Linked DNA regions of Homo sapiens: all the other regions are linked to region 2. The links come from fine-mapping of genetic effects on gene expression. Tissue or cell type: whole blood. Region 2 holds a variant in brackets; each other region holds the start of a gene. Each region is shown on its reference strand, or each on the opposite one.

Region 1 (10,241 bases), not on the chromosome of region 2:
CCCCTCTGCAGACTCTGAAACCCCAACTCACCTGGCCAGCTACCGGAGTGGATGCAGCTGAGTGGCTTGGGGAGCTGGGCAGGGACTTGCAGGCAGCCAGAAGCTGTTGCTGCTTGCGCAAGGTCACCACCTTCTGGGCCACTGAGGGGAGTTGACGGAAGGAGGTGTGAGCAGGCCAGATACCCAAGACCACCCTTCCATGCCCAGCTTTGAGAAATCCCCAGTAGACAACACAGGACCCAACTTCCTTGTCACTGTGGCCTCCATGCCACCTGTGGCCTTGCCAGCTCCTCCAGCCCAGAAAGACCTTGCGACTATTAAGCAAACCTTCTCTGGCCTCCCTGATCTCTCCTCCCTCCCACAAAGGCTAATTTCCTGTCACTCACAGAGAGAGGCCTGGATGCCTGACCACTGAGAATATCCCAGGCCCCTTGCTCTGGCTTCCCACATATGCTGGAGATCACTACACTCACCCTCCTGGAAGACCCGATCCACATTGAGCCCATAGGTTGCACAAGTCTCATAGTAGCTGCAGCGTTTCATGTCCGCGCACAGAGCTCTGGCACGAGCATCTCCCACCACCCGAGGGGAGGAAGCACTGATCCTGTCTGAGGGGACAGGAAAGGGGCAGGATTGAACAAGGAGCCCCACCTTGTTCGATTTTTCACAATTCCCTTATCCTTGCACTGGGCCCTCAGGCTGGGTCCACTGGGGATGGGGTGTGAGAGATCATCTTTTCTGTGACCAGGTGGAATGGGAGTACATAAGCCCTTTCTGAGTACTGGGCCCAGTTCACACACCTAGCTGGGTGAGCTGTGTGTGTGTGTGTGTGTGTGTGTGTGTCCTCAAGGAATACTCCAGAGCTGCTGAGTGGTGCTTCCTGACAAGGTCTACATAGCTGAGACCCAGGCGCGAGCGACAATCACCCTGCCCTGCAAATCCATAGAACCCTGAACTGGTGGGAGGACACCAGCTTGTGAACTAGGAAAAGGTTGGGTGCCCATGGGTCATGGCTGGACTGCCCACTCTGCAGCAAGAAACCAGGATGCAAGCAACAGGTGGAGATAGGCACCAGCAGAACAGGCATCCAGACCAAGTCCCACCAGCTCGACACAGGGGAGTGCTGGAAAAGCATTTCCTGGCCCTGGCAGAGTCTGGGAGCCTCTGAGTCACTTCTCTGAGAACTAAAAGGTTTTCTGCTCTCTTCTTTTCATCATCATTTCCTTTGTGTTTTCACTTTGTTTTTGGATAAGTTCCTTTAAAAGGTGTCAGCCTTACCCAGCTGTCGCAAAAAGGAAGATGGAAAAGGTTTCCTATCCACCCTAGGACTTGAGATTTTCTGTGTCCTAGGATGGTGGCACTAGGAAATGGCAGTGTCAGAACACAAGGTAGGTGACATTTCAGGAGAGGCAAGGAGATGGCTACTATAGCTGTCCTTTCCTCCCTGGAGATCCCCTTTTCTCTGCTCAGACCTTGGGAAGTTATTGTTTGGTTTCATGACTCCCTTATTTGGAGACCAGGCTCCCTCCAGAAGGGTACTATAATCCAAGTGGCCATTTCCACACCTTACCAAGTTCTCACCCATGTTGGGCAATATCCCAGTAGCCTCCTTAGGGCCTCCCTTGAAAGCAGTGCTTTCCTAACCCCTCCTTACCTTGTGTCCCCACCAGTGCCAAGGCCAGGCCTCCTCGTCCCTCCCCGCGAAGGGAACTCAGCTGCCCATGGAGACGGCTCACAGCCTGGAAACTGTTCTCATCCTCCAGGCTGAAGACGAAGATCACAGCATCTGCCCAGCCTGAGAACTTGCGGGGAGTGAGGGAGCAAATGGAAAGTCAGACAGGTCTACTCCTCTGGACCCAATCCAGATGAAGACCTGGGAAACCAGAGCCCTCTCCTTTGGCCAGTGCTGACCCCAGCCAGCCTGTCCCCCACCACCTCCACCCTCACCTTGGCATCAGGTGCCCCAGCTTCCTCTCGGATTAGCACCAGATGTGTCTGTCCATCCACCAACATTTCTTTCTTGTACTGCTCACCTGTCCAGAAGAGTTGGAAGGGGTAACAGGTCAGAGGTGACAGGTCACCAAACCTCCCCATGCTCCCAGTGCTTTTGCTATTATGGCCTCATCCTTCCCCCCTGGTCTCCACACCTGCCTAATCATTGATCTCACTCCTGGATCCCTGACCCCAATGGTTAGCTTACTATGGCTCTTCAGAACTCACTCTCTGTCTTCTCCAGCACCTGGTATGAGCCAGTCAGGAATCGGTGGATGAGCGATGACTTCCCACTCCTGGCATCGCCCAGCACACCCTGAGGGCAAGGTTGTGGAGCAGAAATTGTGGGATATAAGAGAAGGCAGGATGCATGGGTCTGGACACTCCAGAAAACCCAGAGAGATAAGTCATCCAAGCAGGACCCTACAGGGCCTGGATGACAGTCATTCCAGAGAGAGCAGTTGGGAGGATCAGAGCAGCTGGGGGGATCAGAGCAGTTGGGAGGATCAGGGCATGAGTGTGGTAAGAAATGATCCCAAGCTCAAAGTGGAGCACGAGCTGAAGAATGTCAGCAATTCAGTACCAGCTTTTTTGTGTGTTGGGTTGTTTAGAAAACATACTAGATATGTTGTGTGTGTGTGTCTCTGTGTGTGTGTGTTTGTAGCATGTCACAGCTCTAGGCACTAGTTGGAAAACTTTACCCAATTCTAGGCAGTACAACATGAAGGCCAAAGGGCAGATACCAGAAATGAGAAGCCTGGAGGAGGACCATGAACAAACAGGAAAAAGGGGATGGCTGCATAAAGACTAGATAGGAAAAACTTGTGAGGAGGCTGTAGCAAACCCCATGTTGGTGCTATGAAGGCAGACTCTCAGGAGAACTGGAAAACGATTCCCTATTCCCAAAGAGAGAGAGAGAGAGAAGGAGAGGTGAAGGGAGAGAGCTGAGAGTGCAGTGGGTGGGAGGTCAGCCTTCCCTATAGGCAAGGGGACTGGGTTACCTACCAGGCGCAGTTCAGGAATGGAGCGGCTCAAAGTCCATTCCTGGCTATTGATCACAGCCTCTGTAACGGGAGAAGGGCAGTAAGAGGGGAGGCTCCTGGCTCAGAAGGACCCCCAACACTGAGCCACCCCTCCTCCCTCTGCAGCTTTCCAACCCCCCCCCAACCCTGCCTGCACTGGAGAGGTGTGTGCAACAGACAGGTTTGAGGGTGGTCCCCAGGCCTCCCATCCCAGCCACTCTCCCCCAGCTGTTGCTGCCGCTCAGTGGTTGCTTAGCAACGGAGCTAGCAAGACAAAAATACTTCAGTTGGCATCTCCCTTAAAGCACATCCCCAAACGCGGGTCCTGGCCCCAGACAGGGAGACCAGGGCTCTGACAGTGGCAGGTTCTTCCCTCTGGAAAAAGAATAGAAGAGGAGCTCCTCCCTAACCCACTGGTTCCCAGGGCAGACCCTGGGAGGAGGTGCTGAAACACAGAAGAGAGTGTGTCTTCCCCAACCTCCATTCCACAGGAGAGAAACTGAGGTGAGGGGTTTCCCTCCCCTTCTTCAAGGTCAACGGCACTGTAGCCCTGGACCCCTCCCCACAGCCCAAGGGAAAGAGCTAGGATTTTCCTATGCCTCCATCTCCCACACCCTCCCCACAAACGCCCTCCAAAAGAACTGTGGGGAAGGGCTCCATCGCCTGGCCGAGAGAAGCCACAGGCCCGGGGGAAAGGATGCTCCTTCCGCCAGCCAGGTCCAGCCCCCGCGCCTGACACCGGCCGGACGTTCCCGGGGCGCCGCAGCTGCGGCGGGAACTCTGGGATCCGGAGCCATCTGCTCCCACCCGCTCCGGAGCCAAACCCCGGGGGCCGCCTCCGCTCCCGGACCCGCCTCCTCTCCCGGGAGTGTGAGCCGAACCAAGAGTCTCCTGCCTATCTCCTCCAGTAGGAAAATAGTAATAATAATAGACACCCTGCCCCCGTAAAAAACACTACCTTCCCCGTACCGCCTCCCAAGTCTCCCGGGGTACGGATTGCCTTTGCAGCAGTTCCGCCCCACCTGACTCACTCCAGGGTCAGCCCCGGGTGGGTTTCAATGCGGCTCTGGGGAGGGGGTGGGCAGTGGGGGAAGTGAGGCTTCCTATCCGCCCCCTCTCACTTCACATTTAAATATTCTGCACGTTCCAGCCCCCGCGGACTCGCGTACCGCCCAATCCGCCTTCACCGCACGAAAAACATCACTAGCCTGCTCTCAGCCCAGGGGACGACTAGTCCCTGGCGAGAAGCTGCCTGCAAGGTCACTGTCATGCCACCTGCCCCAAGTGCTCAGGGGAAACTGAGGCTTCCTCATCCCCTTCACCTTCAACGTCGCTCTAAACACGGCAAAGCCCCGTTTCCATGCTCCCAGAGTTCAGCTGAGGCTGGAAGTGGGGTCCTGGGCTTCTCTGGGAGCAATTTTCTAGTCACTCTGATCAAGGACGTTACTTTCCCAGAAAGCTCTGAGGCTGAGTCCCTCTGAAATCAAGTCCTTTCTCCTGTCGCACAATGTAGCTACTCGCCCCGCTTCAGGACTCCTATTCTTTGCCCCAATCCTTGACAGAGGGGTGAGCTTGGTTCATCCGCCCACCCCAGAGAAAAGCTTCCCTAGTTTCCTGGACCTCGCTCCTCCACCCCAAGCTGAGCATTCCAGGTACCCTTCCCTCCCTGTTCTCAAGCCCTGACTCAACTCACTAGGGGAAGCGCGGAGCTCGGCGCCCAGCAGCTCCCTGGACCCGCTGCCAGAAGACAGGCTGGGGGGTCCGGGAAGGGGCCCGGAGCCAGGAGGCCCTCCTGTGCTCTTGGTGAAGATGCCGCTGATAAACTTGAGCATCTTGCGGTCACGAGTGGATGCTCGGCCCCCCTCCCGGCCCCGTTTCAGCCCCGGAGCTGGAGGCTCCAGAGTGATTGGAGGTGCAGGCCCGGGGGGCTGCGCGGAAGCAGCGGTGACAGCAGTGGCTGGACTCGGAGTTGGTGGGAGGGTTAGCGGAGGAGGAGAGCCGGCAGGCGGTCCCGGATGCAAGTCACTGTTGTCCAAGGTCTTACTCTTGCCTTTCCGAGGGGACAACTTCCCTCGGGCTCCAGCCCCAGCCCCGACCCCACCAGAGGTCGAAGCTGTAGAGCCCCCTCCCCCGGCGGCGGCGGCGGTGGCGGCGGCAGAGACCGAAGCTCCAGTCCCGGCGCTGCTCTTTGACCCCTTGACCCTGGGCTTGCCCTCGCTTTCGGGCCATGACAGGCGGCTACCCGCGCCCTTGCCCCCGCCGGCTTTGGCTCCACTCGTGGTCACGGTCTTGCAAGGCTTGGGAGCCGGCGGAGGAGGCGCCACCTTGAGCCTCCGGCTGCCGGTGCCAGGGTGCGGAGAGGATGAGCCAGGGATGCCGCCGCCCGCCCGGCCTTCGGGCTCCGGGCCGCCCCAGCTCGGGCTGCTGAGCAGGGGGCGCCGGGAGGAGGTGGGGGCGCCCCCAGGCTTGGGGTCGGGGCTCAGTCCCCCGGAGAGCGGGGGTCCCGGAGGGACGGCCCAGAGGGAGAGGCGGCGGCCGGGAGCGGGGGAGACTGGGCGGGCCGGACTGGCCGGAGCCGGGGACAGGGCTGGGGGCTCCGCGCCCCCGGTGCCCGCGCTGCTCGTGCTGATCCACAGCGCATCCTGCCGGTGGAAGAGACGTTCGTGCCGCTTCTTGCCCGGCTCCTCCGCGCCTCGGGGGCTGCCAGGATCCCCAGTCTCGGAGCCTCTGGCACCGGCGGCGCCGGCCGCGGCCGCAGACGGAGAAGGCGGCGGCGGAGGCACCGACTCGAGCTTAACCAGGGTCAGCGAGATGAGGTAGGTCGTTGTCCGGCGCTGAAGCGCGCCCGCGCCCCGGCTCATGGGGCCCGGAGACCCCCGAGCTGGGGAGGGGAGGGGACTCCCCCGGACTGCCTCAGGGGGGCCCGGCCATGGGGCCGCCCTGCTCGCTGCCCCCAGCCCCCGGACCCCGCTGAGCCCCCGGCCCGGCTCCGCTGTCGCCGCCGCCTCCGCCGCCTCCGCTTGCGCCCCCCTCCCATCACATGGGGCGCCCCCTCCCCATGCTCCCCGCCCTGCGCCCCCACCCTCTTGGAGCCCCGGGACCTTGGTGCTGCTCCAGGGAGGCGCGCCGGACCGTCCACCCCGGCCTGGGTGGGGGCGCTGAGATGGGTGGGGGAGGGCGGGGAGGACAGTAGTGGGGGCAAATGGGGGAGAGAGAGGAAAAGGGAGCAGAAAAGGGGACCGGAGGCTAGGGGAAACGAACCTGTGCGGGGGAGGCAGGGGCGGGGAATTGGGACTCAAGGGACAGGGGCCGCGGATGCGGTCGGAAAGAGGGTCTAGAGGAGGGTGGGAAGCTAGTGGGGCTGGCCGTGCGGGGGATTCGCAGGGGCGCGGGGAGGATGCTGGGGATGGAGATACAGGAGGCGGCGGGGGAGGAAAGAGGGAACGGGAGGTGGGTGGGAACCCACGGGTCTGGGGTCTGGGAGGGGAGGGGCGTGAGATCCGGGCGAAGAGTCCGGGGGCCTCGCCTGGGCTCGGCTTGGTCCGGATGCGCGCTGTGTCCGGGCGCTCCCCTCACATTGAGGAGGAGGCGGCCCCCAGGCCCCCCCACCCTATCTCCCCCCCACCTTTTCTCCACCAGCACCGATGTCTGCGAGGGCGGTGCAAAATCCAGGGCTGGATTTCTCTCCCAAATCCTGGGCTGGATTTCCTGGGACTTGGACTCACCTCCTCCAACAACCTAGCCCCCTCCTCTCGCGCACCAAGGTTAGGAAGCGCGATTGTGAGGTATGGCATTTAGGGATAAGGGTGAAAATCGATCTATTGGGTGGACAGGGGCCGCGGTAAACAGAGCAAACCCAGGGTCACTGCCAATTCTGGGGAAGATGAAGTGGGAAAGTGGGGGCCCTGAAATCCCTTCCCCCAGGATCTCTTGTCTCCCCCAGGTACCTGGACGGTTCCCGTTCTCATGACCCAGCTCCCTTTCCCACTCACACCACCACATTTAATACTTTGACGGGGCCAAGACTTGAGCTCGACTGTCCCAAAGTGAACTTGGAAAATGTTCCCCAGGGATGGGGACAAACATGGAACTTAGCAGGGTAGGAGAGAAGGGAGAGATCTGAGTGCTGGAGGAGCCCAGGCCACAGGGTAAGTCAAAGGCTCCAGCTCTAGGAGGAGGGAGAAGGATGTGTCTTAGACTGATACCCCCCCATGCCAAAATGCATCCAGTCTCCATAGCAACCGTAGCTCCAAGAGTGCCTCAGAAACAGCGGGCAGAAGCAGAGAGGAATCCGTGTGTATGGTGGGTAGGGGACCAACCGCGGGATGCTGAATTAGTGGAGGCACTGCCCTGACACCTGGCTACCCACAGGTGGAGGATTTCACTCCCCAAGTATAAGGACCCTTCAGTTGAGGCAGTGAGAGCCGGCCTCTTCAGGGTTCCCTTTCAGTCTCCTGAGGTTTGCTGAGTGGGATTCTTTCAGAAGATTAAAGAGGAGGCAGGCAGAGTGAATGGAAACCGTCTGCTCCGTGTCCCCCACCCCTCTAGGGGTCTTGGAGTTCAAGGCTCTCTATCCTCCAGCCAGGTGAGAATCCTGAAGTGGTTAGGCCAAAGTGGAAAAGAGGTTGAGACCCCTTGGGGGTGGGGTAAGATGGGCGAAGGAAGGTCTCTCTGCAGCCTTGGAGACCCCTTCCCGGGACTTGGGGAGTCACAGCAGTCCCCTGATTTGGCGTCCCACCCTCCTGACGCAGCTGAGACTATAATAAGTGCTGCCGTGGGCGGCTCTTGGAGGCAGGAGCCCGCAGCGTGCTTGGCCTGGTGGGGGGCTGAGGGTGGGGGGGCTGAGCCAGGATGCCAGGAGCCCTTTGTTCTCCCAGAGGCCTGTATCCAATCCCTCCAATGTTCTGTCCTGGGGCTCAGCAGTTTCTCCCTCCCTCCCTACAGAACCAAGATGACACCATCCCCAGGACAGGAGACCCTTCAGTAGTGTTTTTTGATGGAGAGGGTGAAGGAGAATTGTTGGCTCTGGCTTAAACTTCCCTCCTTTGATGGCCTCGGTTTTCCTTTATGTTCAATGGGAACAGAATACTAATTCTTAGAGAAGGAGTAAAACAAATCACTTATGAGGAGTGAAGCCTTCTCAGGGATTTCCACCTCCACCCCTCCTCACCCTCCTCCCTCTCCAGAGCTAAGCACAGCTTTTCTGCCTGGCCTAAACCGCTCTTCTCCTTTATTATTATTATCATTATTATTTTTGAGAGGGGTGGGGCTTAGAGTTTCTCCCTAGGAGGCCCCATGGCCCACTCCCCCTTGGTCTGCCTTTCCAAACACTAAGGCTGTCAGGGGAAGCTTCAGGTGTAGTTCCTGGCAAAGGGTATGGGACAGGAGGTGAGAGGGGCACTAGCCTCCGAAGAACAATGGGAAGGGGATCATCAGACTGTCCCACTAGGCATCCAAAGCAAGCTGTTCCTTCCCCAAGTTATACTCTGGTGTACTAGCAGAGAGGTCTGGCAGGAGGTGTCCTTGAGGGAAAGAATGATCTCTTGACAACCACCCAGGTAGGCAGGTAACAATGGAGAAGACTGAAATGGCTGGAAGAGATCAGGATATGATGGAAGAAGTGTTTCCACCAGACACCTTTCATGAGCAAAGAAGGCTGCTTTTGTTAGCTCTTTGCTGCATCAGAGGTGAATGGAATGACAGCGAGCTGGAACAACCTCCAGTTCCACCAGTTCCTCAGTGGTAGGGCCTTGTGGATGGAGAGAAGCTGTTCCTGCCAGGGCTCCACCACAGGACTGAAGCCTGGGGTGGGCAGGAGGATGTGGCGGATGGTGTTGCCATGGCAGCATTTCCTCCCTGTGTTGTCATCACTTGCTCTAATGGCACTAAGGAGGTAGAGCGGAAGGTGTGTGGGGGGAAGACAGGAACAGGAGCAAGGGGAGGAGAGGGGACCAAGAAGAGTTCTGGGGACCTATCTGCACTTTGGCTCTGCAGAGCATAGTGTGTGAGAGTTAGTATGCGCTTGGGAGCCTGAGATTCTCTGCATGGTGTACTTCAATGTGCATGCGTGTGTGTGTGTGTGTATGTGTGTGCATGTGTTTCTCTCTACAGCTGGAGAACAAGAGGTCACTGATCCTTTGTGGGTCCTGGGAATGAACTCATTATCCAGTCCCAGAACCTGCTGCCCCAGACTGCTTCCTGCTCTGGACTCCCCAGGCAGGGAACAAGTCTACCATGAGTCTGTCACAGCCTATCTTCCCCATGCTCACACATTTCTTCATTGCCAAGAAGGTCAGCTCAACAGGGACCTGTATTTTGATCTCCTGGGAGAAGGATCAGAGCAGGGAAAGAGAAAGAATGATACCTCCCATGTCTTTTTCCATCCTCCCTAAATGTATTCTTTCCCAGAGTCCCATCTTGGGGACTAGGAAGTAGCTGACTGGGAATTGATATATGATACAGCTAAACCTTCTATGCACCTGCTAGTCCCTGATACACCCAAGTTGAGGGCTGACCTTTCTCTTACCTCGAATGCTGTCCAATGAGGCCTGGATGCTGTCCTGGAGTTCGGGGTCGTCCACCCTCTCTGCCAGCTTCCTGAGGCGGTTTAGAGCCTGCTTGGCCACCTCATGTCGTCTGACTTCTGCTCTCACTGCAGCTACAACGAACTGCCTCTGGGCATGCATGTTGCCCAGACCTGTCTTGCCAGGCTAACAACCACCTCTGGCCCTGAGGCCCATGGCCCTACAGCCCCCAAACCTCAGAAGGCCCCTTCTGCTGTGCCCAGAACTCCCCGCCCCTGCCCGCCCTTCCGTCTGTCGACCTCACTTCCTGACTGGTGAGTTTCAAACCCACAGCCTGGGACAGCACTACCTCCTGCACCTCCCACCCCCTCTAGTGTTGGCCCATCAACCCTGCCAGCCAGTCCCTGCTATGATTTCCCAGCCAGGTGGATGGAGAAATCTTAACAGTGTCCCAGGGCCTCCTGTGGGAGGTGGCTAATTAAGATGGGTGTTGGTTCTGGGAGAATATGGCAAGCTAGGTCCGAGGTGCAATCCTAAACTCTTGATGACCTGCGGATTTCAAACTCTCACAGGAATTCATGCACATTTGGTCTGTTACCCTCACAGCCCTGCATTCTAGTATACACTTGTACCCATTGCCCTCTCTACACATCCCAATGAGCCCTGTATCCTTATGTCTTACGATGTAACCCTTTTTCAGGCA
Region 2 (10,241 bases):
CTGCCCGCGTCAGGGCTCCACGGCCGCAGGGGCCCCCTCGGGCCGCCCCCAGGGCTCCCGCGGTGGGTGTCCGGTGAGCGGGTAGCGAGGCCATCAGTCAGGGCGGCGGGCGCCGATTGGCTGGCGGGCTGGCGGGGGCCGGGCGGGGCGGGGCTCGGTGTTCGTTCGCGCTGGCGTTCCCCCGTGAGTAGAGCCGCGTCTTCCAGCGGATCTTGCCGCACTTTCCTCAGTTGCGAAGGGCACGGCCGCTGGGGACACAACCTAATGAACAACCGGAGCTCTTCAGAGATGCCTTTAGCAACTCAGCTCCTTAAAAATAATAAATTCCTCTTAGGGAAAGATTAGAAGATGAGTGTGCTTGGAGCGAACCCGTGCCCGCCCCCCCGCCTTTTTTGGCTAGAGGGCATTTAGCCTGTGACCACTTTTAAATTTTCACAAGATTTGCATAGACATGAGCATGCCCACTCGCATTATGTAATTATTTCCCCAAATAAGTCCCCATTGAAACATTTGGCTTCCCCGATGGCTATTTCAGAATAAAAACATGTAGCAGGGTATTTCATGATGGGTAGCTCCAAAAACTTTTGTTTAAAAGAAAAACCACGTATCTAGAAAATGCTCCTTTAAGCCTTTTTTGACGAGGAGGAGGGGTGCAGACACTTGCCTGCGGCAAAGTGAACCTGGAAGGAGCGGGGCGTGTGTAGGACAGAGCCCAGGAGAACGGGCAGCCGGGTGGCCGGGCCAGGAAGCAGGGCCTTTCTGGCCCTTTCCGCAGAGGGCTGGATAATTGCCTCTCCTTTCTAAAAGGAGCCGTTTTCTGGGCCGGGAGCGGTGGCCCTCGCCCATAGGCTCACGCTCGTAATTCCAGCAATTTGGGAGGCCCAGGCAGGCGGATCATCTGAGGTCAGGAGTTCGAGACCAGCCTGGCCAACATGGTGAAACCCCGTCTGTACTAAAAAAAATACAAAAATTAGCTGGGCGTGGTGGCGTGCGCCTGTGATCCCAGCTACTCAGGAGGTTGAGGCAGGAGAATCGCTTGAACTTGGGAGGTGGAGGTTGCAGTGAGCCGAGATCGCGCCACCGCACTCCAGCCTGGGCAACAAGAGTGAAACTCCGTCTTAATTTAAAAAAAAAAAAAAGGCTATTTTCTGAGAATGGAGGTGGAGGACCACACAAAACCCAGCCAGTTCTCGTGGCTTCCGCTTTTACACCCTCCTCCGAGAGCCGGCTCCCATGCCCTTCCCAGCTGCGCTGCCCTCGGCACCACCGGGTGCGTCCCCCCGCAAAGCTGGACGCCCTTGTGTCCTCCCGCCTGCCCTCGGTGTCAAGTCTCCCTCCAGGACGCAGTTTCTCGATGTTCTGTACTGGAAGTACATCACCGGTGAGGGCAGCAGGTCACTGTTTGGTAACCATCAGGCTGTTCCGGTGGCTAAAGGTTGCCTGCTGCCAGGCGCCTTGCTGAGTGTGCCCTGCCTTAGTCTGAGACAGTTCGTGGGGTCAGGCTTGACCCCCAGCAGGCCCGCTTCATGAGCTGGCGCCTCTGCAGCCATGTGATGGGCGGAGCCACGTGGGGCTAGCTTACCAAGCCAGGGCACTGACTTCTGCCCCAAGGCCGGGCAGGGAGGACCCCAGCACCGGCCACTCTAGGACCCTAGAATGAGTTCAGTGACTTTACGTGGCACCCCCTCTTTCCACTTTGAGACTTACCTCACTTTTGCTGCACCACCTTTGGTGGTCGCTTTTCTCTTAATAGTGATTCTTCATTCTTCATGGGGGGATAACTTTTCTCTTCTACACATGCTGGGACCCCTCTCCAGGAGGTTCTGGTGGAGCATGAACCAGTGGCTGGGGCATTGGAAGCTTCCCAGGCGATGCAAATACAAAGCCCTAATAAAGCTTTCAAAACTGCGTTAGAAACAGGTCACTTTTACATTTGTGTTGGAAACTTGTCTTGAGACAAATGAATACATTTGAGCCACTGGGATTTTTGGGGAAAATACAGCTAAAAGGGTTAGGAAATGATACATAAGGAAATTCTCCCATCTGATGCTGGCTGGCTTGCTTGCTTGCTGCAAACCCGAGTGTTTTCTATTAAGTGAGGCATTGTGGTTCCTATGCTAGCCCTGATGGGCCTTCAGCACTGGCAGGTGTAAATGCGGCTCATTAATTTTTTAAGAAGTTGGAACTCTGACAGTTTTCAGGGATGCTGAGTAGCTGGTACCAGATGTTTCTTTTGTTAAGGGCATGGAGAGGCAGTGTCACAGGTAATCAGGCTATGGTCGTTCACTCCCTTGGTCTGAGACTATGCGTTTTGTGGTGCTGAATGTTTTCTTAAACCAAGAAGGGTGTGGGGAGGTGCATGTTCTGGTTTCTAGTTGGGCTTTCCCCCGACACTGGCTCTTGCAGTATTATCTTAGGTAGAGGTGTTGACTCAATTATCATTAGACCCAGCTCCTGTTGGAAGAGAGTAAATGGTGCTTGGGGCCTCTTTATCTAGACCGTTTTGCCACCGCTGAAGTGACAGCCTGTGCTTCTAACTGAATTCAGTCCTTTTTTTTCACTCCCTTTCTGTGGAACAACAGCAAAGTCGGCTGCTCATCATTCGGGTGCAGACTTTACAGCCTCTGAACAGCCTCTGCTTTTGCAGTTTATGAATGCACCATTTGTTGTTTTGAGCACAACTGTTAGATACAACTGGCCTCTGCAGCCCACTCTGCCGGCGACCAGTGTGCATCACTGCAGCCTTTTTTTCTTTCTTTTTTTTTTTTTTTTTTTGCATAGGCCAAATTTTTGCTTTAAATACCACCATTTTGTCCACACTAGAATTTCTTTGACCCAACTTACATTTTTTCAAATGTAAGTTTCAGAAATAAGGTTTTAATTTGCTCAAACTGTTGGTCTAGGGATCCTGAATAAGTGCAAGTATTTTACTTTATTAAAGGGGGAATTGTTTTTGTGGCTTGGTTTTGCACACTTTTTTTTTTATATTCTCAAACATGTGACTTCCAAATTTTCCTTTAAATTGGGTTGAAGTTAGAAAGTTTTATTATTTCCTAAGTCATTATATTTTTTCTTTTTGAGCTTTATGCACAAATAATGTTTTCAGTTTAGAACTTAAGATCTTAAATGTTCTCATAACAAAAAATAAATATATGAGGTTATAGATATGTTAGCTTGATTTAACCATTTCACAATGTATACATGTATCAAAACCTCACCTGTACACTGTACATATACAATTTTAATTTGTCAACTATATTATAATGTGAAACTTAATTTTTAAAACTGAATTTAAGGGAAACTGTCAAAACCAAACTTTACAATGTGGTATTGAAGAGTATTTATAAGTAACTGTTTAATTTCTCATTCTTCTGCTCTTGAAACATGGTCTTATCCAAAGGTGATAGCATTAATGTTAGGATTTTCACTTCTGTTTTGTTTTTCTCACATAGACATTCTTTGGCCCTGTGTAATTATATAGGTGCTGTGTTCTCTGGTTGTATACATTGACATTATTCCTTTTTTTTTTTTCACAAATTATTTCTATTTCTTTGTATTTTAGTTAATGAAGTATATTTTAATCTTTTTCTACTGTGCTTTACATATTCAACAACTGGTTCAAATTGTCAGTTCTAACTGCTTTTAGGCCTTGCTTCTCCCAAGGAGATACATTTCTGTTAAGGCAGCAGTAAACATCTTACAGCAACCAACTCTATGTGCCTTGGTATCCTGGAGCTTCCAAAAATGAAACAGTCACTTGTTGAAAATGAAGAAGCTTTCTGTAGTTGAATTTTGAAGTAGATATATTTATTTGTTGTCCTTCAGCGAGGTTATGAAGGCCCTGGGTTACATCTGCATTTTTTATAAAATTGCGACATACAAACATAGTTAAGGGGGGAAAGTGTAATCTTTTGTGAGAGTCATGCTTTCTTCTTCGTCTCACCGTGTAGAGGGGAAGATCTGTCTTTTTATGATTAAAAAAGACACCCATTCTTTCCACTACCTGAAGAATCTTGAAGGTCCATGTGAAGACAAAGCAGCCATAAACAACAAGTTAGAGGGAAAACGAGCTTGTGTGTTAGTGCTTCCAAGAGCAGTTTTCTCAGCTCTGATCTGTTGTAATTTTCAGAGCAGGTTTACATGTGTGGTCGCATGTTTTGGTGGTTGGTTTTGACCTGGACCTTTCAACTGAGCAAAGTCTCCTTGGACTTTTCTCCTTTTCCCATAGTTTCTTGCTGGCTTCTACCTGTGATTAGTATGTGTGTTGCTTAAAATGGCAACTGAAACATCACCAGGAATTTTCACCAGGTAGAAACTGCTTTTCCTGTATCAAAACAACCAGTACAGCTTAGCTGATGCTTCTGTTGCTAAGCAGGTAAATTTCTGGTCTTCAGGCTGCCCTTATTAACCCTGTAAATGCCTAATGTCAACCGAAGAAGAAGAAGAAAAGAACTTGATGCTTCCTTCTCACCTTAGTGCTTTGTTCAAGTGCGTGAAAACTGGACCTAGCTCAGCCTAATTTCCATGTATCTATTTTAGAGGACCTAACCTCGATTAACCTATTTTGCAGGGTCAGGAGGAGAATTGGGAGATGGAGAGGGCCTGTGAGGTTGGTAGTTTCCAGTGAAATGTCAGCCCCAGTAGCTGATAGTGGAAGTCTTATACTAGATGACCAAAATTATGGGTTTATTTCAGCCAGTAATGGGCCCCGTCTTTTTCTTTGGGACTTTTCTCTGCCTGTAGCTGCCCCTATGCCTGTGGGGAGAAGAAGAGGGAAGAAAGGGGTTGCTGTTTGCATCTATTTGCCAGAAAGGAGTTAACAGAACATACCGCAGAACAGGTTGGGCAAGACTGTTAAAGCCAG[T/TGATGAA]GCCTTCCTCTCTCTTTCTCTCTCTCTCTTTCCCTACCCCCTACGCCACCTCTCCGTATCCCTCTCCTTCCTGCTCTGCGCACCGTCTCCCCACCGCCCCCCAGGACTTTAATACATCTTCAGACTATACTCCCCCCACCAACACACACACACAGATACACACACACACTTCAGTATCTGGCTTTCCTTCTAGGCAGAACATGGATGTGAATAAAACACTTTGTGGAGCCTGTTGTGTGAGAAGCAGGCAGCGGCTGTGGGCCTCAGCCTTGCCATCTGTTTCTAGAGCAGTCTGTGGCCCGCTTACCATGCCCTCTGTCATGTAACATAGGCCCCATTCAGCAGCAGCATTCTTGAATGTGCATTTATGTCTCTGTGGGACCGGGGGTAGATGGCCTGAGAGGGGGAAAGCAGGAGATGGGAGGGGAGGAGGCGAGGTGGGGACGGAGAAGGAAGTGTGTGCACACGCAGACAGCCTGGGAGGGCAGTGAGGTGGAGTCACTGCAACTCGGTGCCAGCAAGTCAGGAGACATTACTGCTGGAAGTATCCACAGTTAGCTCTGACTTAGGGGACGTCTTGTGGCCATAAATGTGGAGGAACCGAGCTCTTTAAAAGCCAGTTTGGGTCTGATATAAGTTCTGCTTCGTGTTTGTGTCCATTCACTCCGTAAACATACCATATATAGTCATGTTTGAGCTCACTATAACACACATTGCAAGGGAGCCGCTCATAGTGCACACATCCTTTGGCTGTTAGAAGCAGACTCACATAGGCTATTTCTGGTGTGTCGTGGCTTTCTTCTTTCTTTTTTTTTTTTTGGTGGGGAGGAGGTGGTGGGGGAGGGAGAGGAAAAGGAGCTCTTTTTCCTTCCATCTTCACACTGGTTGGAAGATGTTTCTGATTCTAGTTTGTCTGGCACTCTGAAAGCTAAGGAACTGTATTGTCATGGCAGAAGAAACAATTCTCTGTGTGCATCTGTTTTAGAATGAAACCGTACTTTTCTTAGTATCTTAACATCACATGCATTTTGTAGTTTATGGTCTCCAGTCTCCAGCTGTTTTTGGAGCACCTTCTAACTTTGAGAGGGTGAGCTCTAGCCTGTAAAATGGACTGTGGGTGGCTCGTGGAGAAGGTGCCCTGGTGTGCTTTTCTGTGTCCTCTCTGGATTCTCCCTGAGCTGTCCACCTCTGAAGCCTGCTTCACCTTCAGACTGCCAGGGCAAGACATGCAGCTTCTGCAGAACTCATGGCAGCCGTTTTCCACTTGGCCGAGCTGGGTCTGTGAAGCAGAGAGGAATCAGTAATAGGAAAGAAATGTAGTTGTTTTTTTCCCCCTTAGAATACCTACCATACTGCATTTCAGCTTGGAGTGCGCAGCATGAGGCATTTGTGGTTCAGAAAAGAGGTCTTCCTTTTTCCTCCTCCTGTTTTCTTTTCCTTCCTTCTCCCCAACTCCCCAAAGGCTTACTGCCTTTCTTCTCAGGCCACGTGTGTAGATAACCTTTGAGGAAAAGATGGTTTCCGTGCTGGGATATTTGGATATTACCTAAAGGGACAAGATGAGCCCTTTCTTTGCCTTGTTTTCTTTCTCTGGCCTCATCAGAGTGAATTATATCTGACTGTGTGACAGTTAATTGTACCATCCATCCCGTGTCCTAAGCTGATAAGCCCCTCTCTGTCTGCCTCCATCAAGCTTCTTTGTTTGAGAAGTTCCTAATGCAGTAGGAGAACAAAGTGACAGTTTTCTTATTTACTGAAGTCTCTAAAGCACATTCATAATGCTCTTCATTGTATCTTTCTTATAACTTCATTCCTTCAACTTAGGTAATTAAATTGTTCCATAGTACCAGTGATTGATAAGTTAAAACTTCCTCAGAAACATCAGTGAGTTCAGGAAAAAAAAAAAAAAGTTTGTGTTTTAAGCTGCGTGTATTCATTCCAAACTATTATTGGCTTGGTAGACAGTATTCACAGTAAGACACTGGACACTGCTGGATTGCCAATTACCATTGTGGATATAGCAGTTGATTAGCTAGCTGACTCAAAAGTAGTATATTGCTTATGTAGAGGTCGCTTATTTGGCATTCTTCGGTCCAGAATATTCAGCCGATGTGCTTGCGAGTGAGTGAGAGCCAGCAGGGTATACGTGGGGGGAGAGGTATGTAAAATAAAGTTTTCAAAGCCACAAAGGTGTTAGGAAGTCCTGGTACTAACACTCCTACCTTGATTCCCATTGATCCTTTAGGCCTGCACTTCAGCACTATTTATTCTTACTGTAGATACAGCCCTGGCCACCTTGTCTCACATTTTCCAGTCTACATTTCTGAGGCCAATGTTGGGGATGGAAAAAAGCCATCAGAAGGAGACACATTGACAACAAGCAGAAAAGATGTTAGGGGATGAGACAAGAATTCAAACGGCATGGCGGATTCCCATTGGGGGAATTTCACAGACTGGACAGAGGAGCCCTCTGTGTTATTTCTTAAAACTGCCTGTGTATCCACAATTATCTCAGGAAAATTTTCAATTGAGAAAAACAAGCATGGCCAACAGAGCCATGTGGTACAGTGGCAAAAGTAAAGTGGGGGGGGGTGGGTATGTCACTAGTTTCCAGAGGCAGCCTAGTGTAAGTTGTTCATCGTGATGATCCTGAGTCACCCCCACAAAAGGCTGAATTAATCATACATTGATTCACCATGCTATGCTTAAGGAAACAGGGAAGTTTGAAAGATACTTTAGAATGATTGACACCCAGGAGTTTTATATGGAAAATTAATTTCTGAATACTTTCCTTCCCCCTCAGTGATGTGCAGCTGCTTCATGAGTTAACATGACGTGTTAGAATAAACCTTTCAGTATAGTCAGACATATACTAAAATATTATATATTTTGCCCAGATTTGTAGAAAAAAAGTTATTCATTAACAGATTCAGATGATGTCCAAATACCATACCAGGTTGTCTGTATTCCCTTTATTTTTTGAGACAGAGTCTTGCTCTGTTGCCCAGAATGGAGTGCAATGGCATGATTTCGGCTCACTGCAACCTCTGCCTCCCAGGTTCAAGCAATTCTCCTGTCTCAGCCTCCCGAGTAGCTGGGACTAGAGGCGCGTGCTACCACACCCAGCTAATTTTTGTATTTTTAGTAGAGTCGGGGTTTCACCATATTGGTCAGGCTGGTCTCAAACTCCTGACCTCAGGTGATCTGCCCGCCTTGGCCTCCCAAAGTGCTGGAATTACAGTTGTGAGCCACCACGCCTGGCCATTTGTCTGTATTCCTAATGTGAATTGTGCATATTTATCACCAAAAGAATATATAAAATGTCATGGATTTTTAAAAGCAAATGATACCAAAGATCCCTAGGTACCAGAGAAGTCATAGACATCCTGGAAAACATAGTCTCTGTAGAAAAGGAATACTGAACTTAAAGGAAGTCTCAAGTTAAATTTAAACCATCAAATGGTGAATTGGAAGGAAGGAGTGCCCTCAACTAAGACTTACTGTAAAAAACCATAGAATTTTAGAGCTGGAATGGACTTGAGAGGTGACTTGTTCTGTTTTTATGAGTTTGTCTTCATTTTACCCAGTGTTCTTCCACAATTCATGTCTGTGCCCAGAATTGAACAACTCACCTGGAATAGTGTCCACATGGCTTTTTGGCCATGAGGAATAATCCTAACTTGGAAAATAATAGGTATTTACTCAGCAGAAATTATTAGGTTTTGGGTTTTGTTTGTTTTTTGTTGAGACAGAGTTTCGCTCTGGTCGCCTAGGCTGGAGTCCAGTGGCGCAATCTCGGCTCACTGCAACCTGGCGCCTCCCAGGTTCAAGCGATTCTCCTGCCTCAGCCTCCTGAGTAGCTGGGATTACAGGTGTGCACCACCACGCCTGGCTAATTTTTGTATTTTTAGTAGAGACGGGGTTTCACCATGTTGGCCAGGCTGGTCTCAAACTCCTGACCTCAGGTGATCCACACACCTCGGCCTCCCAAAGTGCTGGGATTATAGGCGTGGGCCACTGCGCCTGGCCTGGTTGGTTTTTTTTTTTTTTTATTCTTTTTTCAAGGTTATTTGCTAATTTTATTCTTCTCAGTAGTTCCATTTTATAGGTAGAGAACACTTCAGCACTCCATGGTGCTATACCAGACTCTTTCTTGGCCTTGTTATATATTAATGGACATTTTCATGGAAATCCCAGGGTTGAAAACTCCCCAGAGTTGCTAATACCTGCTACTGGTTCTCAAGTGGTTTGATATTATATACATAAGTGTGGAGCATTGCTGGACCCAGGTTTTAATAATCAGATTAATAGATACATTTGAAACATTGTCATATTAGCTTTTAATACTACTGAATTTAAGTCTTCTGTGCACTTAGGTTTGCTGTAACGCATGGTTAACATATATAGGTTGGTATAAATTTTTCTGTTCCTGATTCAGATAGGGTTTTTGTGTGTTTTGGGTTTTTTCTCCATAAGAGAAATTGTTCCCTTTGAAATTTTAATTAGTTTTGAAATTAAACTATAGTTGTGCATATGCATGGCAGCTATACCTCCTGATTGCTATGCTGAAGGTAGAAAGTATTCTCTTGTTGTATAGACATTGGTCATACTGTCAGGCAAGGGAAATGCCACTAATTTCTGTTTCTTGAATTGCATACCAGAAATAGGAATTCGTTGTCTGACTGTTAGATGCTCAGGGCAGATGGAAAAGTAAGAAAAACCAGGACTTCCCAGGAAGCAAGTGGCAGATCTGTGTGCTGACTGTTTCAGGGTGGGGATGGCACAGAGGGGGCTTGCAGGAGAGATGTGGCCGAGGGTGGAAGAGCTTGTCTTCGGTGCCTTGTGATAAGCGACCTGCAGCCTGTTGCAATGGCGACTGCATTTGAGATGGTGTGCTTGTAACATCCGCCGGGTAGGCGGAGCCTCAAGGACACATGTTGAGAGGTTGGGGTGGTGGAGCCAGGAGGTGCAGTGAGCGAAGCATCCAGGCGTGGATTTGAACAGCTGCTGGCCGCCCGGAGATCAGCCTCCATGCATCAGTCATAGGCACAGAGAACTCATCCGTGCGGCTGGAGGCTGAACATGGAGAAGGAGGGAAGGGAGCTGCTTTTTCAGTTAATACTCTTGATGCTTCCAGAGCAGTTTAAAGATACTGCGGAAATTTGTTGGGTGGTTCATTGTTTGTTTTAAAAGCTTTGCCCCCTTCACGTAATCCTATCTTTTATTTAATATAAATGCAATCAGTCTGCTTTAAACACTGACTAAAATTGCTTTTACTAGATATTGTATTATGTATAAGGGGGGAGCTGAGGCCCAAAGAGAAGAATTTGATCAATTGATTTAAGGTTGTTGGAGGATTGAAATGTTACTTGATTGC
Region 3 (10,241 bases), not on the chromosome of region 2:
ACTGCCTAGCATGGGCCACAAAACAGTGCCTGGCCTGGCCCATGTCAGCAATTCAGTCCCTTGGTCACAGCACTCAGGCACCCCCATCCACCCGCACACGAGTCTGTCAGAGTCCCCCTGAGAGGGAGGCTCACTTGGTATCCAAATGGAGGTTGAGTTCTCATCAGTTACACAAAGATTCTATTTATTTCTCTTACTTTTCAGTTCAAGTAGGAGAGCATGTTTTGGAAATAAAAGAACTGACTAGCACAAACATCTCCTCTCTGATTTGACAACCTCTTCTGAAGAGTGAACCACATTTGGTACAAATCCACTCTTCACCCCTTCCCAGCCCTCCTGGATTGTAATCTCCCCCCTTTTAACCAGCTCATATATGTCTCTTGTCAGGTCTGTGAAGGCTTTCTCCACATTAATGGCATCTCGGGCTGACGTTTCAATGTACTTCATGCCGTATGCAGCAGCCAGTTTCTCGGCCTCGTGGCGAGTCACTTGCCTCTGTGTATCCAGGTCACACTTGTGACCCACCAGAACAAATACAATTTGGTAGGGCTGAACGTGTACTTTGGTCTCTTCTAACCACTCATGGACATTCTGGAAGGACCTGCGGTTGGTAATGTCAAATAAGAGAAGACCACCTACTGAGTTCCTGTAGTAGGCGCGAGTGATGGATCTAAAACACAAGAAAGAAGTAAAGAGTAAAGGCTGTGCCCAAACTTCTGCATGTCAATGAACTCAGTATATTCAAGTGTTCCTGGTTAGTGACACAGTCCTTTAATAAAAATGATTTTCTTTTTTTTTAAAAAAACAAAGGAATACAAATGGCATTCCATACTACTACTAATATGTGAGTTTCCAATTGGGCCAAACTTTGAGATGGGCATCTTCTAGAAACGAATGTTCATGAACTTTTAGGCATTTTCCATGGATTCAGCACTGGAGAGTGACCCTGGGACATAACTGAGTTCTATTTCTTGCCTTCAGGTAAAACTACAACTAACTCTCCCACCCCCCAAATCTGAATAACTGACAGAGACTTCCTTTTCTGCAAAATAGGATACCCAAGTCACAGTGTTACCATGAGGCAAAATGAAACAATGGATATTAAAGTGTTCTGTGACGTGGAGAGTTCATTACAAATGCTAGCAGTTGAAACAGGATTTTTAAAACATAGAAATGAATTTATGATAGTTAACAAAATATTTAAAGTAGGTATCTTGCTACTCCATTTTTTCCATTTATCATTACCATGTTTTTTTCTCTTTCCATTATTATTATTGTTTATTATTATTATTATTATTATTATTAGCTAACAGGGATCCTCAATCTCTTCTGTGAGGAGAAACACAATTTTATTTTTTATTTTCAAGGCCTGTGGGAATGGGAAAAAGAGAGATGGCGAAGGGTTCAGGCAAAGTGCCTCTCAGCCCTGTTTCCTGACACATTTCAGAGAGGCCAACTCAACTCAGGAGCCATCAGAAGAAACTTCACATGTTTTAACTTCTTGACTTGAGGAACCTCATTATAAATATACATTATGGCACTTTGCTTACAGTGTATTAAAGCTTATTACAGGGTATGGACCTATTTGTCTCTGCAGTCACTTGCTTTAGACTACTGTGATTTTTTTTACCTATGTCTATTTTTAGGTTTTCTGTCTCCTCAGATAAAGAAGATAGACAACGAAGGACTCAATAGCTTAGAGAAAATGGCTCAATGTTAGCAGAACAAGCATTGTCCAGGGACCTACAGTCCAAGCTAGATGATGGTAAAAGTAAAACTTACAAATGACTTTAAGTCTCCAAAATCAGGCAAATCAGCCCTGGGGACTGAAAGCATTTCTCGTCTCTTAGGTTTGAAGATTCATGGAGAATGGTAGATTTACCAGAAAATTTAGACATGAACAAACAAAGGTTTTGATTTGTGAGAAGGTTGATTCAAGAAATCAACAAGCAAGCTGTAGATCACTGTCAAAACTCTGGAATATATTATTACATTAATTGTTTGTGAGTACTTAGCAAAGAAAGTGACAAAGGCCTTCTAAGCATGGACATAAGGCTACATAAACCTTAAATTCTTCCCTACATTAAAAAATCTTAAATAATGTGAAAAGACAGATGATAAACTAGGAATATATCTTACAACATACATGACAGGAAAGGGTTAATATTCTTAATCTATAAAGTACTCTTACAAGTCCATATTGCCCAATAAATAAATAAGCAGTGGATATGAACAGGCTGTTCATATAGAAAGAAATTCCAACAAACACATAAAAGATACCTTTCTTTGCTTAGGAGAAATGCAATCGCAAGTTCAAAGTGAACCTGTACAAGGATATTTTCCACAGTGGTGTTTGTGGAAGTGGGGAGCTGGAGGTAACTTAAGTTTGTAATTATTTCTTCTCCTTACCCCTCTTCAATTACCCAACCAGTATCTTCTATGCTTAGTTAGTTTTCAATAGATAAATGAGTAAATGATCATAAACTTGGGCTATTGAGTTTTCTTGATCTGGTTCCTGCTGCTCTACTTTAGTTCAAATTGTTCTCTGCAAAGTTTTCTGTGTACACTCTGCTCCCTCTCACTTCTGTCTTTATTCATGCTGTTTCCTATCCCTGGGCGTTTCCTGTCTTTGCTTAGGCAGTCATACTCATCCGGTCTCATCTTCTCCAGTTAACCTTTCCTCCTCTGTGTTCATACATATAATTACAAATAATACATGCTACAATAGAAAAGCAAAGGGTTCTGAGTGAAAGTAAACATATTCATTGATTATTCAATGAATTCATTGATTGAAATTAAGCATGTTCATTTTGTGCCAAGTGTTACAGTAGGGAGTGGGCATACAAATATGAGCAAGACACACTTTCGTAATTGCTGATTATCTATTTCCCTCAACTATGTTAGCACAGAAGTTCCAAGAATGAAGGGGCTTTGTCTGTTTAGATTACATGGCATCCCCTTGTGTGAGTCTCCTCACACTGTTTTCCCAGGAACAAGCCCAGAGTCTGGCACATAGTAGATGATCACTGAATGTGTGCTGGTTGCAAGAAGGAATCAATCGTATCTATTTCATGTTAGAACATATGTTAGCATATATATGTGCACACACACAGATGTGGAAATAAAACATAATACACATGTATTTATGTATTTAAATCTCTGTCAGTTATGTTAGGATGACCTGGGAACGTTTTTGAAAGTATGTAACATAGGGACTGAGATTGATGAATTACAGATACAGAGATCAATTCCAGCTAGTTTGTTAGCCACCAAAGGGCAGGTTGGTGGAGTTGTGGTGCAAGCAATATGTGTTATTGACCGGCCTTCCCTGCCAGGGCGCTTCTTTCCTTGCACTAAACTCCGGGTTAGCCGAAGGTGGGCTTCGGCAGAATCCTCAAGACCCTTGGTGTTGCCCTCCTGGACCGCACCTAGAACCAGGAAGTCCTCTCTCCCCAGAGGCGGTGCAAACCCCGAAGACCCTCCCACTGCTTGCGGGCCCGGACTGCGCTCCCACCTGAACCTCTCTTGACCCGCGGTATCCCAGATCTGGAGCTTGATGCGTTTTCCTGGCTCGATCTCCACCAAGCGGGAGAAAAAATCCACCCCCACGGTGGGGTCAGAAACCTGGGCAAAGCGACCCTCGGTGAAGCGGCGGATCAGGCAGGACTTGCCCACTGTGGAATCCCCGATGACAATGAGCCGGAACTGGTACAGCCAGATGGCCTCCATGGCCGCGGCTCTGCAGGTCTCCTTGGCCCGGACCGGGGACGGCGGGAGGGGGCGCCCCGCCGACGCCTCAGAGAGCGCGGCTCGGCAGGATCTAGCTCAGCCGCGAGCGCATCGCTGGCCTGGGAGCCCGAAGCTGGGTAGGCCCAGGCGCCGGGAGAGCGGAGGGATGGATGCTGCGCTCGCAAAGGTGATGAAATGGCAGCAGCATCAGCACCACGCACTCTGACTCATCACTGACAACCGGGTTACTGTAATCCCCCGCGTAGACGCGACGCCTGGGCCGCCGCACTATCTGTAAGAGGAGCGCACACAAAATGGCTGCAACATTAGCGCGATCCCTCCCTTTCTAACTACCCCACCCACCCTCTGTTCATTAAAACTGTTCTCTGTCGTTCAAACTGCCAATGTCATACCTTTTCATTGAAACTAGCAAAGCAATACAAAACTGCACAAAAAAGGGAAGGCACATAATTATATATTAGTCTACAAGTGTTTCCATGCTCACATAAACACACAAATATTATATGTGTTTGTATTCCTATATGCATTTATTGCTGTTTGTTTTTACAAAAATTAAACTGGGGCCTTACTTTCAATTAATAATTGCTTTTTGCAATTAATAAAGCAACATAAATATCTTTCCATTTCCACCTAATTTCCCTTTTGTCATAACTTATTTTAAAGTGTAGCCACAAGTATTTTATTTCTGTGAGCTACAGTCTTAAAAAAGGGGCCATGAATTCAAAGAGTATAAGTATTTTAAATTTAACGGACATGGGCATTCTACTTTCCAAAACTATTTAACAGTTTAAATTCTACCCAGCAATGTGTGAAAAGACCATCGCTCTGCATTATTTCAAGCATCATATGTATGTTTTATTCTTTCTTAATTCTTCTCAATAGAATTTAGTTAAATAAAAATATGTCTCATTGCTTTATTTTTACATTTCTCTGACTACTGATGAGGTCAATACCAAGTCTTGTGTATTGACCATTTCATTTCCTCTTCTGGGAATTGTCTCTTCATATCCTTTGTATTTTTTATGTGTAATTTTATTTTATTTTTTTTTTGAGACAGAGTCTCTCTCTGTCGCCCAGGCTGGAGTGCAGTGGCGCGATCTCGGCCCACTGCAACCTCTACCTCCCGGGTTCATGCCATTCTCCTGCCTCAGCCTCCCGAGTAGGTGGGACTACAGGTGCCCGCCACCACGCCCGGCTAATTTTTTGTATTTTTAGTAGAGATAAGGTTACACTGTATTAGCCAGGATGGTCTCGATCTCCTGACCTTGTGATCTGCCCGCCTCGGCCTCCCAAAGTGCTGGGATTACAGGCGTGAGCCACCGCGCCCGGCCTTCTATGTGTAATCTTTTATCGTTGCCTTACTCTTTAAAAAAAATCAGCTTCATTAACATGAAAATTCACATACTGTACAATTCACCCATTTAAAGTGAACAATTCTTAGCATAGGTTTTTAATATACTCACAGATATATACAACTATCACCACAGTTAATTTTATAACATTTTTATCACTTCAAAAAGTAACCCAGAGGGGTGGGGGGAGGGGGGAGGGATAGCATTAGGAGGGATTACATTTACCTAATGTAAATGTAAATGACGAGTTAATGGGTGCAGCACACCAACATGGCACACGTATACATATGTAACAAACCTGCACGTTCTGCACAGGTACCCTAGAACTAAAAGTATAATAAAATATGTATATATATTTTTTAAAAAAAGGAACCCAGAACCTTTTAGCTATCATCTCTCTATCCCATGTTCCTCCAGCCTTTGGCAACCATTAATGTACTTTCTGTCTCTATAAATTTCCCTATTCTGAACATTTCATATACATGAAATCATATAATATGTGCATTTTTGTGACTGGCTGCTTTCACTTAGCATAATGTTTTCAAGGTTCATTCACACTGTAGCAAGTATCAGTACTTCATTCCTTTTTGTGGCTGAATACTATTCCATCATATGGATAGACCATATCTTGTTTATCCATTCATTCATTGAGGGACATTTGGGTTGTTCCCACCTTTTGGCTATTCTAAATAATCCTACCATCGAATATTCATGTGCCAGGTTTTTTTTTTTAATATCTGTTTTCAGTTTTTTGGGATTTATACCTAAGAACGGAATTCCTCAGTCCTGTGGCAACTCTATGTTTAACCCTTTGATGAAATGCCTGACTTTTTCACAGTGGCTGTACCATATTACATCCCACTGGCAGCCTATGGGGTTCCAATTTCTCCACATTCTCTCTAACATGGATGTGAAGTGGTACTTTATTCTAGTTTGATTTGCATTTCCCTAACGACTGATGACTTCAAGCATATTTTTACATTCTTATTGGCCATTTGTGTATCTTCCTTGGAAAAATATTGACTTAGATCTTTTGCCCATTTTTAAACTGGATTACTAGTCTTTGTATTATTGAGTTATAAGAGTTCTTTATATATGCTAGACACAAGTCCTTTATCACATATATGATTTGCAAATATTTTCTCCAATTCAGTGTGTTCTTTTTTTTCACTTTCTTGAGGGTGTCCTTTGAAAAACAAAGTTAGATTTTTAAGAAGTACAATTTATCGAGTTTCTATTTTGTTGCTCATGCTTCTGGTGTCATGTCTAAGAATACTTTGCCCAATCCAAGGTCATGAAGGTTTACTCATTCTTTCTTCTAAGAGTTTTATAGTTGTAGTTCATTCATTTAGGTCTATGATCCATTTTGTGTTCGTTTTTATGCATGGTGTGAGGAAGGGGTTCAAATTCATTCCTTTGCATGTGGATATCCAGCTATCCCAGCACTCTATTGAGGATACTATTCTTTCTCTATGGAATGATTTTGACACTCTGGAAAATCAATTGACCATGGATGTATGGATGTATTTTTGGACTTTCTATTTCTATGTTAATAAAGCTGATTTGTTTTAAAACAGTAAGGCAATGATAAAAGATTACACATAAAAAATACAAAGTATATAAAGAGACAATTCCCAGAAGAGGAAATGAAATGGTCAATACACATTGGTCTATATGTCTGCCCTTATGCTGGTATGACACTCTCTTGACTGTTGTAGCTTTGTAGAAAGTTCTGAAATCAGAAAGTGTGAGTCCTCCTACTGTGGAGGATCCAATCTTTTCAAAGATTGTTTTGGTTATTTGGAGCCCTTTGCAATTTCATATGAATTTTAAGAACAGCTTATCAGTTTCTGCAAATAAGGCAGTTGGAATGCTAATAGGTATTGATTTGACTCTGTAGATCAATTTGGAGAGTGTTGCTGTCTTATTAAAATTAAGTCTTTCAATCCATGAGCACAAGATGGATATCATTCCATTTATTTAGGTTTTTAAAACTTGTTTTAACAATGTTTCATAGTGTTCAGTGTATAAGTTTTGTACTTCAAGTATTTTGTTATTTATGATGCTATTGTGAATGGAATTGTTTTCTTAATTTCATTTTTAGATTGCTCCTTGCAAGTTTATAAAATGGAATTAATTTTTGCATATTGATTTTATATCCTCCAACCTTGCTGAACTTGCTTATTAGTCCTAATAGTTTTTATTTATTTATTTATTTATTTTAAATAGTAAGTTCTGGGATACATGTGCCGAACATGCAGGTTTGTTGCATAGGTATACACGCGCCATGGTGATGTGCTGCACCCATCAACCTGTCACCTACATTAGGTATTTTTTCTAATGCTATCCCTCCCCTACCCCTCCACCCCCCAACAGGCCCCGGTGTGTGATGTTCCCCTCCCTGTGTCCATGTGTTCTCATTGTTCAACTCCCACTTATGAGTCAGAACATGTGGTGTTTGGTTTTCTGTTCTTCTGTTAGTTTGCTGAGAATGATGGTTTCCAGCTTCATTCATGTCTCTGCAAAGGACATGCACTCATCCTTCTTTATGGCTGCATAGTATTCCATGGTGTATATGTACCACATTTTCTTTACACAGTCTGTCACTGATGGGCATTTGGGTTGGTTCCAAGTCTTTGCTATTGTGAACAGTGCTGCAATAAACATATGTGTGCATGTGTCTTTATAGTATAATGATTTATGATCCTTTGGGTATACACCCAGTAATAGGATTGCTGGGTCAAATGGTATTTCTGGTTCAAGATCCTTGAGGAATCACCACACTGTCTTCCACAATGCTTGAACTAATTTACACTCCCACCAACAGTGTAAAAGTGTTCCTATTTCTCCACATCCTCTCTAGCATCTGTTGTTTCCTTTTTTTTTTTTTTTGAGACAGAGTCTCGCTCTGTGGGCCAGGCTCCAGTGCAGTGGCATGATCTCAGCTCACTGCAACCTCCATCTCCTGGGCTCAAGCAGTTATCCTCCCTCAGCCTCCCGAGTAGCTGGGATTACAGGCACGTGCCACTGTTTCCTGACTTTTTAATGATTGCCATTCTAACTGGCGTGAGATGTTATCTCATTGTGGTTTTGATTTGCATTTCTCTAATGACCAGTCAAGCTACCATTGACTTTCTTCACAGAATTGGAAAAAACTACTTTAAATTCCATATGGAACCAAAAAAGAGTTTGGCAATTTTGTTGTTCTTTTCAAAGAACCAACTTTTGGTTTCATTGATTCTATTGTTAATCTATTCCCTTTGTTTCATTTATCTCTGCCCTAATCTTTATTATTTTCTTCCTTTTGCTTGATTTTCTTTTAGTTAGCTCATCTTTTTCCAGTTTCTTAAGTTGGAAGGTTAAGTTATTGATTTGAGATTTTTTTTCTTAATACAGGCACTTATAGCTATACATTTCCCTCTGAGCATTGCTTTATCTGAACCCCATAAGTTTTGGTATCTTTCTTGTGTCTTCATTTTCATTTATCTGAAAGTATTTTCTGATTTTCCTTTTGATCTCTTCTTTGACCCATTTGTTATTTATTAGTATTTTGTTTAATTCTCACATATTTGTGAGTTTCTTATATCTTTTTCCTACTATTGATTTCTAATTTCATTCCATGTGGTCAGAAAACATACTTTGTATTATTTCTATCCTTTTAAATTTCTTGAGGTTTGTTTTTTTGGCATAGTATATAGTCTATTCTGGATAACGCTCCATGTACACTTGAAAAGAATATATCCTCTGCTGTTTTATATATATATATATATAATAAATATATATAACATATTATATATAATATATAACATATTATATATAAAATATTATATATTATATATAATATATATATGTATAAACTGTTATGTCTAGTTGGCTTATAAAGACTTAGACATAAGTCTACTGTTTCCTTGTTGATCTTCAGTACAGTTGTTCTACATATTATTGGAAGTGGAGAATGAAGCCTCCAACTATTCTTGTAGAATGATTTTTCACTTTAACTGTCAGTTATTGCTTCACATATTTTGGAGCTGTATTGTTAGATGCATATATGTTTGTAATTGTATCTTTCTGATAGATTGACCCTTTTATCACTATGAATTGTCTGTCTTTAGTAGCTGTTTTTGTTTTGAGGTCTATTTTTTCTGATATTAGTATAGTCACTTCAGCTTTCTTGTGATTGGTGTTTTCATGATATGTATTTTTCATCATTTTACTTTCAATCACTTTGTATCTTTGAATATGAAGTGTCTGCTGTAGACAGCATATAGTTGTACCATTCGAAACATCTAGCCATATAATCTTTGCTTTTCTTTAAACAGATTGTTTAATCTGTTCACATTTAATGTTATTTATTGATATAGTGGGATTTATGTCAGCCATTTATTTGTTTTTCTGTATGTCTTAATATTTTTGTTCCTCTAGTCTTCTCTTATTGCTTTCTTTTGCACTAAGTGAATATTTTTTGATGTACCATTTGAGTTTCTTAATTCTTGATTAAAATTTTTTCACTATATTTTGAAGTATTTTTTAGTGGTTCTTTAGAGCTTACCATATATATCTTGACTTATCAGAATCACCTTCAGATTTATACTAGCTTTATTCTAGTGACATATAGAAACATTATTCTTATATAGTTCTTTTTTTTTTTTTTTGAGATGGAGTCTAGCTTTGTCACCCAGGCTAGAGTGCAGTGGCGTGATCTTAGCTCACTGCAACCTCCATCTCCCAGGTTCAAGCAATTCTCCTGCCTCAGCCTCCCAAGTAGCTGGGACTACAGGCCTGAGCCACCACACCTGGCCAATTTTTGTAGTTTTAGTAGAGATGGGGCTTCACCATGTTGGCCAGGCTGGTCTTGAATTCCTGACCTCAAGTGATCCACTTGCCTGGGCCTCCCAAAGTGCTGGGATTACAGGCATGAGCCACCATGCCCGGACTCCTGTATAGTTCTATTGTCTTGTCTGTCTTTTTATAGTACTATTGTTATGCATATTATGTCTATTAATGTTACAAACCTATCAATGCATTGTTATAATTATTGCTTTATCATCTATATTTCCTTATCCAAATATAGCTTTGCTCTCAGCCACCTCTTTTGTGTTGCTTTTGGCAAATATACTGCATTCTATGTTATAGACTGAA

The links. PIP is the estimated chance that this variant, and not a neighbour inherited with it, causes the effect.
Region 1: it holds the start of AGAP2, and the variant in region 2 is the best candidate, but not a certain one, in a credible set for the expression of AGAP2 in whole blood (TOPMed, PIP 0.51).
Region 3: it holds the start of RAB39B, and the variant in region 2 is fine-mapped to the expression of RAB39B in whole blood (TOPMed, PIP above 0.99).

The regions. Positions count from the first base shown.
Region 1 is chr12:57,732,372-57,742,612 of GRCh38, forward strand. AGAP2 (ArfGAP with GTPase domain, ankyrin repeat and PH domain 2) reads right to left here and starts at 6,371. Exons shown (of 19, transcript NM_001122772.3): 1 at 4,708-6,371; 2 at 2,998-3,056; 3 at 2,221-2,308; 4 at 1,948-2,033; 5 at 1,655-1,802; 6 at 474-608; 7 at 32-141. The coding sequence starts at 5,875. RefSeq lists enhancers at 1,259-2,458, 8,917-8,996, 9,530-9,589 and a silencer at 5,524-5,743.
Region 2 is chr6:7,141,096-7,151,336 of GRCh38, forward strand. The region is part of intron 1 of RREB1 (ras responsive element binding protein 1); the gene reads left to right. Among named protein-coding and RNA genes, the nearest start is that of RREB1, 38 kb to the left of the region's middle. RefSeq lists silencers at 1-197, 9,702-9,867 and enhancers at 278-407, 4,424-5,094, 5,353-5,502. The variant T/TGATGAA (reference allele first, on the strand shown) is at 4,865.
Region 3 is chrX:155,260,560-155,270,800 of GRCh38, forward strand. RAB39B (RAB39B, member RAS oncogene family) reads right to left here and starts at 3,932. Exons shown (of 2, transcript NM_171998.4): 1 at 3,515-3,932; 2 at 1-670. The coding sequence starts at 3,729. The coding sequence ends at 244. RefSeq lists silencers at 3,710-3,919, 3,930-3,979.